Homo sapiens: one gene and its partner. The protein of the gene in region 1 interacts with the protein of each later gene in a pairwise test. Each region holds a gene or a part of one and is shown on either strand. Other genes may lie near its edges. The genes, in order: DNAJC13 and SCAMP1.

Region 1 (8,369 bases):
GCTATACGTTAACTAGAGACTAGCACAACAGGCTACATTAACATTCCATTAAAATGATGTTAATAATCTATTTATTACCAAGATAAAGCTGGAGAATTTTTATAACTGCCATTTACTGGCTGCGTGACTTTGAACAAAAGTTTCTGAATTTATCTGAATTATAGTACGTCTATAAAATAGGAATAACTGTCCCGAAGGGCTATGGTGAGGACTAAATGAGATAACCCAAAAAAAGAAGTTATTTTGGGTAATTCTACTATATCTTATTTTCAAGAACTTACCAGCTCTTGTACCTAATACAGCATTTTGGGGGGAAATTCTATTAAATTACTTGATTTTCTCTAAATCTTTTATTAATTTCAATCCCTCTAGTATGCAATAGATATCACCTAGAATGTTCACCTTCAAAAGTACAGTGTTCTATTGATTTAATCAGCATTCACTTTTACTTAACCATTCAAAAATAACTATAACAATATATATTTCTTAAACTGAATGATGTACATGAGGATGCCATTTATTATTGTTACTGTCATTATTATTTTATTGTTACAATTTATGTTTCCCATAAAACGTTTTTAAAAAGAAAAAAATATTGCCGGGTGCGATGGCTCACGCCTGTAGTCCCAGCACTTTGGGAGGCCAATGCAGGCAGATCGCTTGAGTCCAGGAGTTCAAGACCAGCCCAGGCAACATGGCAAAACCCTGTCTCTACTAAAAATACAAAAAATTAGCTGGGTGTCATGGCACAGGCCTATAGTCCCAGCTACTTGGGGGGCTGAGGTCAGAGGACCACTTGAGCCTGGGAGGCTGAGGCTGCAGTGAGCGAGCCCTCATCTTGCCACTGCACTCGAGCCTGGGAGACAGAGTCAGACCCTGTCTCAAAAAAAAAAAAAAAATATATATATATATACACACACACACACGTGCACACACACACACACACACACACACACATATGTATATATAAACACCAAGATAATCAGGATAGATGAAATTTTTAAAAATCATCTTGTCAACTATAACCCAACACTTAAGCTTGTCTTTTATTTCAACTTTATTCCTACAAAATACTATTACAAGTCAATCTTATTTACTACATTTTTAATATTCCCCACTTAGGTATTTGAAATTTCAGTTGTTAGAACTGTTTCCTTACATGTATCCAACCTAATATTTTTAAATTTATGTTTGATGGCTACAAATTAACTATGGCTTGAGAAACTTTCAAGAAAAAAAAAACTTCACAAAATAAATTTAATCTGCAGTCAATATTTCCTCTGTACATTAATAAGCTCTAAAAGTGATTCAAAAAAATCATCACTTATAGGCAAAAACTCTTAAGCAACCATTGATTTCCACTATTTATGATGAAAAAAATCTGTAAAATTTCTAGTATCAGAAGCTCAAGTATCAAGCAGGTAATATCAGTAACAGTCAAATATAAGCACATGCTATCAACAACCACAAACTGTCCAACTAAAAAATGTAAACAGTTAAATGGGATCTTGAATGAGATCTTGGTAGCAGCTGTATCACTAGCATTTGCCATTCTGCCAGTTGTTTAGAGGCTATTCGAAATAGCAGGAATTTATCTGCTCAAACTAACGTCACTTAAATTTCATCTCCTTCATTCCTGCAATTGTGTTCCATATTTCAAATTCTCAAAGACCCATGATTCTTTCTGATGAGGAAAAATCAAATTTACATGCCTTTTGTAATTAAATTGCATTGAAAGCATCTCCAATTTTTGCGAGTCAGCTTCACTTGTTTTCATGCTATATCCTAAATTACACCACCAAAGAAACTTCTGTTTGTTCTTTTTATAGAACTGTCCTATGGGTTAAAAAGTCAAATTCAGGGCAACACAGGCATTTTGGCTAGATTCACCTCTCTCAATGAATACTACTGCATCATGCTTTCGAACAACACAATATTCTTGCATTCTCTAATTTATTACTGGCAGTAATACTGGCAAACCATTTAAGATCATTTATGGTTAAAATGAGAATGATCTTTTAGAAGACACATAATTTTGACAGAAAACCACAGGATTTGGGAGTCCAGTGAGAAGAAGCCTACATCAAGTTGACACTAAGAACAAAAGCAAGATGAAGGGACTCAACACCACAGACACTCAAGCCAATTACGGTCAAGCTATAAGCAAAAAAATTTACACACACAGCAAAATTAAGTATATACACATGGCTTGTGTTAAGCAAAAACACAAGCAGAACACTCATTTAACTAGGGATGAATGAATACACTTAGAAAAAAATACACTAGTGAAAGAAGGATTGGCATTAATCAGGCTAGTCACCTGTTTAAAGCACGTATTTAGCATCATCAACTGGAAGTAATTTTTACACAAATATGACAACTTGCAGAGAACAGGTAAGCTACTGATTTTCCCATTTTGAGTCTGTAAAATGCAAGAACGGAACTTACTTTCATTAGCTCTGCCCTCAATAACTAAAAATGTGAATTTGTTTTGAAATGCATAAAAAATAAGATGGATTGATGGAAAGATGGACAGATCTGTGATAAAGCAAGTACAGTAAAATGTTAATGTAAAAACCTTTAGGTGGGCATGTGGGTATCTAATGTAAAGTTCTTTCAACCTGGCTGTAGGTGAAAATGTTTACAATATGTTGGGTGAAAATTGTGGAGTTTGCCTTTTCTGATCAAACTCTCCTACAACAGAAACAATGCTACATTCCAAAACCACACTTAAAATGTAGCAGACATTCACATCATAGGAACTAATTTATGAACGTAATACTTCCTACAGCTATATCTTACCAAAAAGGGAGGGGTAGTAAGGAGAACCATGGAAAGACTAACCCTTTGAAAAAATAACTAATAAGAGTAATAGATAGAATATCTTATATTGGCTTCTTGAGGATCTAGGTTTGTTTGTAACTGGATTCAAAATCTGAGTAAATCATAGCACTAGATTAGTTTGGTTTCAAACAAATGGTAAAAAATATGAATGGCTAACAGAATGTTCATTTTTACCCAGATTAAATAGCTACAACTAAACTGTTTAGATAGAATGTGCTGTGTATGGGGGAAACTGCCATATGAACTTTAACCCTATTTTTAAATTTTAGCTTCATTTTAATATATGACTCAAGTACAGGTAAAAGCATTTTCTTCTAAATGAACAACAAATCAGTATGTGTAATATGTATGATACCAACAGGAATCTTAAAACAAACCATAAATACATCACAAAGATTTTAGTACCTACCATCTTAGCCTTCCTTAACTTACTGAAGAACCCGATACCTCCAGAGATAGATGTCGTTGAAGAATAAAAAAAGCCAGCGGTAATATCAAATTTCATCTGATAATCATATCTTCAAATAATTGCCCAGATATTTTAAAGTGAAGTGATTGTACTGTCACATCATAATCAACTTTTAACTAGTTTCACTACCATAGGGTAGCTGAAATAATATGAGATCTCCACCATTGTTTTTAAAAACTTGATTCCTTTCTATTACAAACTGAGTATATATTAATGAAATACAGGGCAAGAAAAATTCAAAAGCAACCCCTAAATCTGAAGAAACACTTAATGGGAGGAGGGGACAAGCATACTTACCATAGCAGTTACTTTTTTTGACCTCTTCTATTCAACAGTATAAATCAAGTATTGAAAAGAGACCTGTCTCTTCTATTTCTATCACATGTATGCTCATTTCATCTGAGGGGAATAATTTGTATTTCTGACAAAACAGAAGTTTATCTGTTGTTAAAAAAATTCAAATTTTCTGTGAAAGATGTATTACTATGACCCTTCCCTTTCCAAAGCTTAAAAATGCCTTAAAATACTCACCTGAAAGCTTTCTTTCCAGAAACATGTTCACTTAAGCAATGCTTTGAAATCATTGCTATTGATCATTTACATATTTTTAGTTTATACACATTATTGTAACTTTATAGACCTAATTTCTATTTCATTTTATCTTTGAAGCATAACCTGGCTTATGCAAGAACAAACTATACTATTTCTGTAAGGTCTTCAGCTTATCAACTTATTAAGCTTATCAGCTTATTAAGGCACTTAATAATCATGCTCTACTATGGTAAACAGGCCCTGAAATGGGCAAAAGAAATTTTTAGCAGCCATATTTTAACTTGTTGCTGTTTTTCCTATCATTACAGTAAATGCATAATGCGGGACTAAATTTCCTAAGCTTTTAACACATACAACTTGAAGACAGTTTTACAGAAAGCATCCTGAAAACCCAAACACTGTTCTTTTTATACTATTAAAAGACAAAAGTTTAATTTGCTACAATTTCCCCTTCACTCAATACAAAATAGCAAAAACATACATTTCTAGTTTAGTTCTGAAATATCCCTATTATTCCTACCTCTTCTGTGGCGCTTTACAGTTTATAGAACACTACCAAATTATCTTAAAAAAGCAAAGTTTCACTTTTAAAATTAAGCCCATTAGTGCTAAGATTTGGGGGGAAAATGGCTTATCTGCTCTAAGATTTGATAAACATTCAAAATACATTCTGTAGCTTGACTAGAAGTTTGAGGAGAGAAACCCCATAGCCTTAGATGACTAAGGAATACAATAAAAGTGAGAACACCATGTATAAGCGTTTAAATGTATTACAGAATACATGAAATATTAGAGAACATCTCCTCCATTCATAACCTCACCAACCCTTCCATTAAGTTGTGGCAACTAGAGCTGGCAAAAATCAAAGCGTCGAAATAATTTTTTTTAAGAGACAGGGTCTTCCTTTGTCACCCAGACTGAAACGCAGCAACACAATCATAGCTCACTGTAATCTCAGTCTCCTGGGTTCAAGCAATCCTCCTGCCTCAGCCTCCCGAGCACACGTCACCACAGCCAGCTAGTTATTTCATTTTTTGATGAGACGGGGTTGCTCAAGCTAGGTTGGAGCTCCTGGCCTCGAGTGATCCTCCCGCCTCAGCCTTCCAAGTGCTGGGATTACACGTGTGATTATTGTGCACCCAGCTAAAATAATTCTGGATTGCTTTAGGGGTTTTGTTTTCTATCTGATAATCAAAATATCAAACTCTTATTAATCCATTGCAAAGAGATATTACCACTGGGCATGTGCTAAATATGTGACTAGGCAGTGTTCTTCTAAGGGCAACTTGAGTGCTTAAACTGTAAAATTCCACTGACTTTAAAGCTCACTCTTTTTCACAAGTAGTCCATGAAAGTACAAGTAAAACTCCCATATGTCGACTATTGAATAAAGAGCATCTGAAAAGAATTACTAGCAAGCTATATGGTTTTATTGACTGAACCACACCTAAATGTACCTTTGCACAGGTAACTATCTTAAATTAGCAAAGATGATCATAACCATGTTGGTTTAAACTATTTGTTACAAAGAAATCTAACTCAGTTACTCTCAAAGGAGTTCCTATGATTAAGAATCACTCCACATAACAAGAAGTGTTATAAATTGGCATATGCTGGGTATGTGAACACTGCTGAAACAGAAAAAATATGTTGAAAACCACTGATTAAAATTTTGAACTAAAGTAATGGTTGGGCTAGGATGCCATCCCATCTGAGGCACTATGACTGGGAGCACTACTAGCATTTAGTGGATGAGACTAGATATTCAACATACATTACAGTCCCAAAGATAAGTACCATCCACACCATACGACTTTCAAGTGTCCAAGTGAGCCAGGTATGGTGGCTCACACCTGTAATCCCAGCATTCTGAGAGGCTGAGGTGGGAGGATTGCTTGAGCTCAGGAGTTTGAGACTAGCCTGGGCAACATAGTGAGACCTCGTCTCTACTAAAAATAATAATAATAAAAAAAAGTTAGCTGGGCATGGCGTGCCTATGGCTCCAGATACTAAGGAGGCTAAGGTGGGAGGATCGCTTGAGCCCAGGAGATCAGGGCTACAGTGAGCTATGATCGTGTCACTGCATTCCAGCCTGGGCAACAGAGTGAGGTCTGAAAAAAGAAAAAAAAAAAGGAAAAAGAAAAAAGTCCAGAAGTCCAAATGCTTAGTTGGTTAGTCATGTAGGCAAAAACCTATTTATAATGAATGAATCCCAGACTCTAATTGTTTTATATATAACTCACCAAGTACATTTTGCAGGGTTTAATATACAGAGATTTTTCCAGGAATGTGGCTGCAATGTAAATTAAGAGATTATACTTTATTAACCCTGTTCTTTTCTGACAATGCTAATAATCTCAATTGTGGTATTTGAGTCACCAATGTGACAAATCTGTAGACATCAACATTTCTGTCAAAAATCAAAATGGGCCAGGCATGGTGGCTCACACCTGTAATCCCAGCACTTTGGGAGGCCTGGGTGGGTGGATCACTTGAGGTCAGGAGTTCGAGACCAGCCTGGGCAACATGGTGAAACTCTGTCTCCTAAAAATACAGAAAAAAAAAAAAATCAGCCCAGCATGGTGGCAAGCGCCTGTAGTCCCAGCTACTCAGGAGGCTGAGGCAGAGGTTGCAGTGAGCCAAGATCGTGCCACTGCACTCCAGCCTGGGTGACAGAGCAAGATTGTCTCTCACACACACAAAAAAAATCTCAAAATGATTCCATGTAAAGATACAAGCCTCTGACACGTCCTTTGTGTATTTTGGTATAATCATACTTAACTATTTACATATTGAAATGCATATAGTCAATTCTGCTATAATGCTTTCTTGATCATGTGAATTTTAACAGGATTGGTGTATTACTGAACAATTTGAGCATAATGAAAATGTCACATTTGCTTATAGTGATTCTGTCCCAACACTAAGTGAACGCAGAAAATTGTACCCAACTGAGTCATGCAGGAATTCACAAAATACACACACACACTTCAGGTGGTCAATGAACCACATACATTCACATATATGTTACTAATTTTCCACTCCATCTTATAACTTTTTTTCCTTCTACTACTTCACAGTAATTCAGAAACTATAACTCCATCCAATGCTCACTGCATTGTTTGCTCAAACTTTTTCAAGGCAAAATGTCATTATTATAGTATTTAACATGTACAAAACAGTTCTTTTTAAGCTCCTATCTTTTTAAAAAATGTATAATGATGACTGCTCTTTCTCTTGGGAGTTTTTTTCATGGGCCTCATAATTTTTGGTTAAAAGCTGGACATGTTGTGTAGGAGTAGAGATTGAGGTAATTTTTATGACTGGAAATGAGCACGCCTGTTCTTTGTGAGGCCTTTGGTGAAGGGTTTGTGTTAATCTGGTTAGGAGTTGGACTTAGTTTATGATTTGTTTTTGCCATAGTTATCCTCAGTGTATTACAGCCTTCATGAATCTGCAGAACAGTTTGTCTCTCTGGTGGGCGATGGTTTACTAGAGCAATGCCTGTTTGATTCTTTGTGTTGTGCCTCTTTGCATAATCTTGTTCCTTTCCTAGTAGTATTTTGTGGGTTACTTGTTACTGAAAGCTTCTTAGCTTGGTGGCAGGGGGTTGGGGGTGGGGGATACAGTCTGATGTTCTGATTAAGTCTAAGTCAAACACTGTGTTCCTGAATCTCAGGAGGGCAGCACTCTCGGTTCTGTTGACCACTCCCGACTGCAGTTTTGGGCTCAGGGCCCCTCCTCCAGGCATAAGATTCTCTCCCACTTCTCATCTACCCCCTGAATGTTCACCAATGGGGCCAACAGAGATACCCTTCTCCCCAGAGATTAAAGCTTTTTTCCATAGAAGAGGCAGAGGGGAAGAATCACAGCAGTTTCTTGACCCTCTTAAAAGTTCTGTTGCTGTTCCTCTCCCTCTCAATCTGCACAGCAGACTCACCCAGGGTTCTTTCCAGTCTTTTCTAGTAGACCCAGGGAGGTTTGTGGATAAGAGTTTGCAAGATTGTGCATTCAGCTTTCATCATGCTTTTTGTCCAGTTGTGTCTGAAGACGGTAAACAGAAATTGACATCTACTCTCTGTAAGCACTGTCTCTCAAATTTTCAGCCAGTGGTTTTGCTCTGTGGACTCAGCTCTTTAATAGATTTCAAAAAAGTCATGAATTTGTAGTGTAGGTCTTTTTTTGTTGCAGAAGTGAGAGCAAAGCTTCTTTTTTTGTCTCAGGGCCAAAGCCAGAGGTAGTTACATTATTTATAAACTAAAGATAGCAAAGAAGGTGTTACTAATTATTTTTTATAAAAAGGGAGCCTTTATTGGGTCTAATAAAGTTGAGAAACACTGACTCAAGGAACTCTTTCAAAATATTAATAACTCCCCTTTAACTACTGCCATGTTTTACAGTGAACATTTAGGCCAAAACCTATTTGTAGCAACCAAATTTGTGCTGCAGTTTATCTGCACAGCCTTGTTTCAATTACTAATTTAAAGTACCTCAATCAGAAGCA
Region 2 (7,092 bases), on another chromosome or scaffold:
TAATAGACAAAAAACAGAAACAACTTAGGTGTCCAGCAATGGATAAAGAAACATTACTAATTCTGAAAAGCACCCAAAGCCAAATGCCAAGGAGAAGGGGATTACTGGATTGCTCTCTGGGTATAGATCTGCAAGCCTTCTGCACAGAAAGGAGAACAGGGTTTTCCACACCAGTCTACACATATGAAGTCAAACGCTGCAGGACATTACAGACTGCCTCAGTAGGAACAACTCAGAGACTTGTTACAAGGTTAAATCTAACCAAACTCCATGTCACCTTTTATATCCCACACCCACTGAAAGTTGGAAAATTCTCCCTTGTGATTTAAAAACATCTTACAATATTTGCAAGTATATTACTCCACTACACCACCAAAAACTGTAGGTCTAAATACAGGCTTAACTCTATCACCCTTTTGGCAAGAAAATGTTACTTTACACTTACGGTTTAGCAATTCTGGTTGAAACAGACAGACTCACTCAGGTCACCCCAAATGCTGGGAGCAGGAGAATATTTTAAAGATATATACAGAAAGAAGAACGCCAGGTTTCACAGAGATTGAAATTCTTCATGACATGGCACATCCCTTCTAGTTAAAAAACACCTCTAATGAAGGACAGGAATTCTTGAAAATGGCCTTCAAAAGCCTAGTGAGATAACTGCTATTCCACTGCTTTGGACAAGTACCTTTGTTAAGATCAGTCAGCTGAGGCCAGGGTGGCAAAAGTCACACCCTAGAGGACATGATCACAAATGTGTAAGCTACCATGAGGGCTGCTCCCTCAGCAGAAGCTGAGGCTCAGAGCATAGCTGGTCTCTGAACATAAAGCATCCTCTCTAGCTGAACTGATCATACTTAATTCCAATATCCAATATGGTCGATATATTAGAACAGAGAAAATGCAGGAATACCTAGTTTCACTGTACTTCACAGATATTGCCTTTTTTAAAAAAATAAATTGAAGGTTTGTGGCAACCCTGCATCAAGCAAGTCTCGCAGCACCATTTTCCCAACAGCATGTGCTCACTTCACATCTCTAGCGTCACACTACGGTAGTATTCGCAATATTGCAAACTTTTTCATTATCATTATGTCTGCTATGGTGATCTGTGATCAGTGATACTTGATGTTACTACTGTAATTGTCTTGGGGTGCCACAAACCATGCCCATAACACTGCAAACTTACTTGATAAATGTTATGTGTCCTGGCCGGGCACGATGACTCACGCTTGTAATCCCAGCACTTTGGGAGGCCAAGGCAGGCAGATCACCTGAGGTCAGGAGTTGGAGACCAGCCTGGCCAACATGGTGAAACCCCGTCTCTACTAAAAATACAAAAAGTAACCAGGTGTGGCGGTGCACGCCTATAGTCCCAGCTACTCGGGAGGCTAAGGCAGGAAAATCGCTTGAACCTGCGTGGTGGAGGTTGCAGTGAGCCGAGATCACGCCACTGCACTCCAGCCTTGGAGACAGAGAGAGACCCTGTCTCAAAAAAAAAAAAAAAATTGTGTGTCCTGACTATTCCACCAACCAGTTGTTCCCATTCTCTGTCCCTCTCCTTGGGTCTCCCTATTCCCTGAGACATTACAATATTGAAATTAGGCATCTCTGTAGGTTATCCAACTTCTGCTTGAATTTCTGCAAGTGCTGGAGAATGCCCTACCAAAAGAGCATTGTCAGGCCATGGTAGCAGATTTTTAAAAGTCTGTTTGGACAAAATTTACCTTTACCTTCAAGTAAACTTTGCCAGTTAACCTTAGATTCTTTTTCTAAAGCAACAAATAACAAGTTTATTCACTTACCTAAGAACACTTTAAGTATCTGATGGGAGCTCTCCTATTTCCCTTTAGCCCTCTGTAGACTAAATCCACTGAGTAATTGAAACTTAAATTGTTCTTCCTAGAACTTGATTCCAGTCCCATGACCATTCTGACTGTCCTCTTTGGGCATATCCTAGTATTTTCAAACCACTCTTTAAATATGCACTTGCAATTGAGAAGAATACCCAGCTATTAGACCAGAACAGAATACTATAGGATTATTAATTTTAAGGAACTGATCACTAATTTCACTAAGCCAATATATATTTTTCAGCAACTATATCACACTGGTGGTTCATATTAAGGAAATAACCAATAAATTATTTGGATCTGCATTTATCACTATTAAATATTAATCATAGTCCAAAAAAAACTTTTGGTAATATCAGCACAAGAACAGTTTACTTTCGAAATTTTCATAATCACCATCATCTCATATGACTGTAAAGCTACAGGGCCAAAATAAAACTGTGTTCAAATCTTAGTTTTGTCACGTGGCACAGCAGCCTCCTATGGCAGCAGCCTTCCCCTGGCCATATGAGATGCTCAACCTAGACAAAAGTTTTCTAAACATCTGAAGAATACCGACCATGGCAACGGACACTTCACCCTAAATGAAGATTGTCTCAAAAAGAATGACAAATGTGGTTTTTAAGGCATGGTTTGAACTCTGGTAAGATTAAAAAGAAACTGTTAAGAGAGTTGTGACAGCCTGGACTAAAGAAACAGTTCAAAATTAATAGAAACTTCTGGGCTCCCAATTTTCAATGGGCAAGAAGCAGGCCAAAAATGCTACTCAGCTGCCAAAAGGGCTCATTCTTATAGAAAAAAATAAATAAAGGACCTCTCAGAGGGTGGAGCCAAAAGCAGAAGAAAATAACAGGTGAAGGAACCAATACGAGGTAGCAGAACTGGGCCCTAATCAAGAAACATTCATTGTCCCCAATGTAGGGGACCCTAACAACACGTGCCTGGCTAGATTTCAGAACTGCTATGCATCAGCAGGTGCTACACGCCTCCCACTCTTTCCCTATTTGAATGGGAGTGTCTAGTGAAGTTATCCTACGACTACCTCGCCATTTTATACTAGGTGTATCTTCAGATCATAGGTCTGTCTCCAGTCAAGAAGTGGAGCCTATTGCTTGCCACTCCTTTTAAAATCTAGGCTGAACTTGTGCCTTGTTTTGACCAACAGAATACAGCAGAAGTAGCATATGATTCAAGAAGCCTTGTAGATTCAGCTCTTGCCCTCTGGGAGCACTGCTGCTACTATGCACAAAGCCCATTTATTACTAGTAGAGAGGCTACATGAAAGACAGCTAATTGCTGTGCCCACTGACATCTCCAGGTAACCAGCAGGCACTTGAGTAAGGATATCTGAAACCATAAACCAGGTGACTGAAGCCACTTTAGTGACTCCAGAAAAGAACATTAAAAAAAAGAAAAAACCTGCCCAGCTAAGTCTAGCGCAATTAACAGAATCGTGAGCAAATAATTGTTATTTTAAGCCATTATATTTTGGGATTGTTACATAGCAACAGATAAGTGAGACAGTGGTAAATAAGATAATGGTGCATCTTACAAAGGATGGCATCTTAAGTTGATGAAATATAACAGCAGCTCAATATGTGCTTTTTAAAAACATTAACATGAGGAAAAATGAGCAGGAATTCATGCAGTTGACATGAACGTAAAATAACACAGGCCCACAAACTGCAACCACTATGTTCCAGATTAATGTTAAAAGACAGTTTTCAAAATGTGACAATCACAAAGGAAATCCTCAGAATACTTTCCTAGTGCTATCCAATCTCCAAACTCAAAATTTTATATCTTTTTTTTGTTTGTTTTTTGGGTTTTTTTTTTTTTTTTTGAGACAGGGTCTCACTCTGTCACCCTCCCGCCTCAGCCTCCCAAGTAGCTTAGATTACAGGTGTGCACCACCACACCCAGCTAACTTTTAAATTTTAGTAGAGATGGAAGTCTCACTATGTTGCCCAGGCTGGTCTCAAACTCTTGGGTTCAAGCAATCCTCCTGCCTTGGCTTCCCAAAGCACTGGGATTACAAGCATGAGCTATCAAGCTCAGCCTCAAAATTTTAAACAGATAAGGGAGGAGTGAAATCAACTTGTAAGTATCATTGTCAAGGTAAATGAAATAAGATGGATAACATTCTTGATGTTACAAAATGAAAACTAAGGTCTGAACGTTTGTTTCCTTAAAAATCACATGCTGAAACCTATCACCAACGTGATGGTATCAGAAGGTGAAGACTTTGTGAGGTGACTAGGTCAGCAGGGCTCTGCTCTCAAGAATGGGATTAATATCCCTATTAAAAAAAGGACCCAGAGGCCAAGTGTGGTGGCATACACCTGTAATCCCAGCACTCTGGAAGGCTGAGGCAGGTGGATCACTTGAGGCCAAGAGTTCAAGGCCAGCCTGGCCAACATAGTGAAACTCCGTCTCTACTAAAAATACAAAAATTAGCTGGGCATGGTGGCATGCACCTATAATCCCAGCTACTCGGGAGGCTGAGGTAGGGGAATCGCTTGAACCCAGGAGATGGAGGTTGCAGTGAGCCGAGATGGCACCCCTGCACTCCAGCCTGGGCGACAGAGCAAGACTCCGTCTCAAAAAAAAAAAAGAAAAGAAAAGAAAAGGGCCCCAAAGAGCTGCCATCCCCTTCTGCCATGTGAGGACACAAAGAAGATGCCATCAATGAGGAAAAGGACTCACCATACACTGAATCTGCTGGGACCTTGATCTTGGACTTCCTAGCCTCCAGAGTTCTGGGCAATAAATTTCTGTTGTTTATAAATTACCCACTGTGAGGTACTATACTTTGTTACAGCAGCCCAAACAGACTAAGACAAATGAATAACACACTTGAATTATGGGTCATTTTCAATTTTAAATTTCAACTCTTACAATGCCACCAGATTACTGTAACTTAAAAGATAACATAAGTGAGAATGCTGAATTTTAGGCCATTTCTAAAAAAAATTTCAATAGACTAAAATTAATTTTTGAGGCCAAAACAAAATGGACACTATGCTCAATTTTAACATGGAGATATTTTATTAGGGAGGAACTACGTGTTGTGAAAAAGCACCAGAATTCAGACAACCTTGGTCTAGTCTAGCAGGTTGATGTAGGCAAAGCACTTAATTATTTTTAGCTTTGATTCCTTGACTATGATCAGTCAAACAGCTACTACCAGCACTCCAGAAGATCCAAAAGTAACATAAATTTCACTAAATTCATAGCTAAGCATATAGAGATTATTAAACAGAACTTTTTTTTTTTTTTTTTTTTTTTTTTGAGATGAGTCTCGCACTGTCGCCCAGGCTGGAGTGCAGTGGTGCCATCTCAGCTCACTGCAACCTCCACCTCCCAGGTTCAAGCAATTCTCCTGCCTCAGCCTCCCAAGTAGCTGGGATTACAGGTGCCCGCCACCACGCCAAGCTAATTTTTTGTGTTTTTGGTAGAGACGGGGTTTCACCATGTTGGCCAGGCTGGTCTCGAACTCCTGACCTCGTGATTCGCCCGCCTCAGCCTCCCAAAGTGCTGGGATTACAGGCGTGAGCCACTGCGCCTGGCCATTAAACAGAATTTCTTAAATTACTATTAATACTAAATATTAGTACCTAATTAAAACCACTATACATTAAGCTCTTACTATATGCTAAATGTATGTTCATCTAATCCTATTTACAATCCTATAGAGAATGTACTATTACCCTATTTTACAAAATAGTAAACTGAGTCTTTCTTTTTTAATACTTCTAGGGTACATGTGCACAACGTACAGGTTACATATGTATACATGTGCCATGTTGGTGTGCTGCACCCATTAACTCGTCATTTACATTAGGTATATCTCCTATCCTTCTCCCCTCCCCCCACCCCATGACAGACCCCGGTGTGTGATGTTCCCCACCCTGTGTCCAAGTGTTCTCATTATTCAATTCCCACCTATGAGTGAGAACACGCGATGAGTAAACTGAGTCTGAAAGAGGTTAAGTAACTTTCCAAGGTCTCACAACCAGTTAGTGTCAAAGCCAGGATCAAGCCCAGATCTTTTCAAATTCTTGAGCCAAAATTTTTTAATCCTATCCTCTGCTGCCTCCCCTCAACTCTAACCTCCAAATACAAAACAAGAATTTTGGTATCAAAATGCAACCAGGGAGCACATACAGTGTCACCAGTAATGGACTAGAAATCAGGAGACCTAAGTTCTAATGCCAATTCTACACTACCTACACATGGGCACAAGACAATGAGCAAGTGTGCCTCTGTGGGCTTTGTTTTTTAATCTATGAGATCTGACTGAATATATTTTAAGAATTTGCCCCCCCAGCTGTGAAATTCTAATTCTCTTCATATTTTAAAAATTAATTTAAATGTTATTTCCATAATGAACTATCTTATTCAATCAATTATCATGTTAATATGCAAAAGCATAAAGCATGAAAATTTTCTGACCACTTACTAATTTCTTCCTTTTATGAACAAACTGCACTTGTTCCGGCACTTAACCATACACTCTTATGCTGACTTGTAAGAGCCTATATTGCTGACCTCTGCTGGTTATTAAACTCTCCCCTTTCATTCATTTTCCAAGCATATTTGTCTCACTGTTAGACTAATAGCCATAAGGACAGAGACACTTCTTCAGTATTTGTTGAATGAATAAACTCAACAGAAAACAAAGGACATACAGCAATTCTTCAATAATTACATGTTGACTATACAGAAAATATTTTTCCCTCTATAGCTTTAAAACCCCATTTTAACAGCTCAAGAGTGGATCCTCAGAAACTTCTATATAATTAATCACCTATTTTCTTTTCGATCACTACAGATTTCCAGTTATTCCAAGTTTCTTGATGCGCAATGAAAGCCATTCAAATTTCATAAAACCATTCACTAAGCCTAGGAAAACCACTAGAATATAAAGCAGGGGCTCAACAAAAAAAAATGAACTGAATCCAGCAAATAGCCTTACAAGAACCAATAAAATCAAGTAAACCACTATGGTTATATTATATAAGGAGAATAGACTCAAACTACTTTCATGATACGGCACAAACGAAGATGCTTGCAGAAGTATTCCTAACATAAAAGTGAAGGAAAAGAAATGCTAAAAAATGAAAAAGGCAATGGAAAACAAATAGGATTTAATGAAAAAGAAATTAGCATAGTTACCAAATGCGAAATATCATATACTTGAAAATAAGAGCTTTATCTTCAAATACTGCAAATAAAA

Evidence for each region.
Region 2: the proteins of DNAJC13 (region 1) and SCAMP1 interact in binary tests that used the Homo sapiens proteins (3 or more experiments, as listed by UniProt).

Annotation. Positions count from the first base shown.
Region 1 is NC_000003.12:132,419,664-132,428,032, reverse strand, and holds part of DNAJC13 (dnaJ homolog subfamily C member 13), read right to left. Parts: exon of another isoform or gene 6,316-8,369; intron 1-6,315.
Region 2 is NC_000005.10:78,363,525-78,370,616, reverse strand, and holds part of SCAMP1 (secretory carrier-associated membrane protein 1), read right to left. Parts: intron 1-7,092. UniProt on the Homo sapiens protein: Functions in post-Golgi recycling pathways. Acts as a recycling carrier to the cell surface.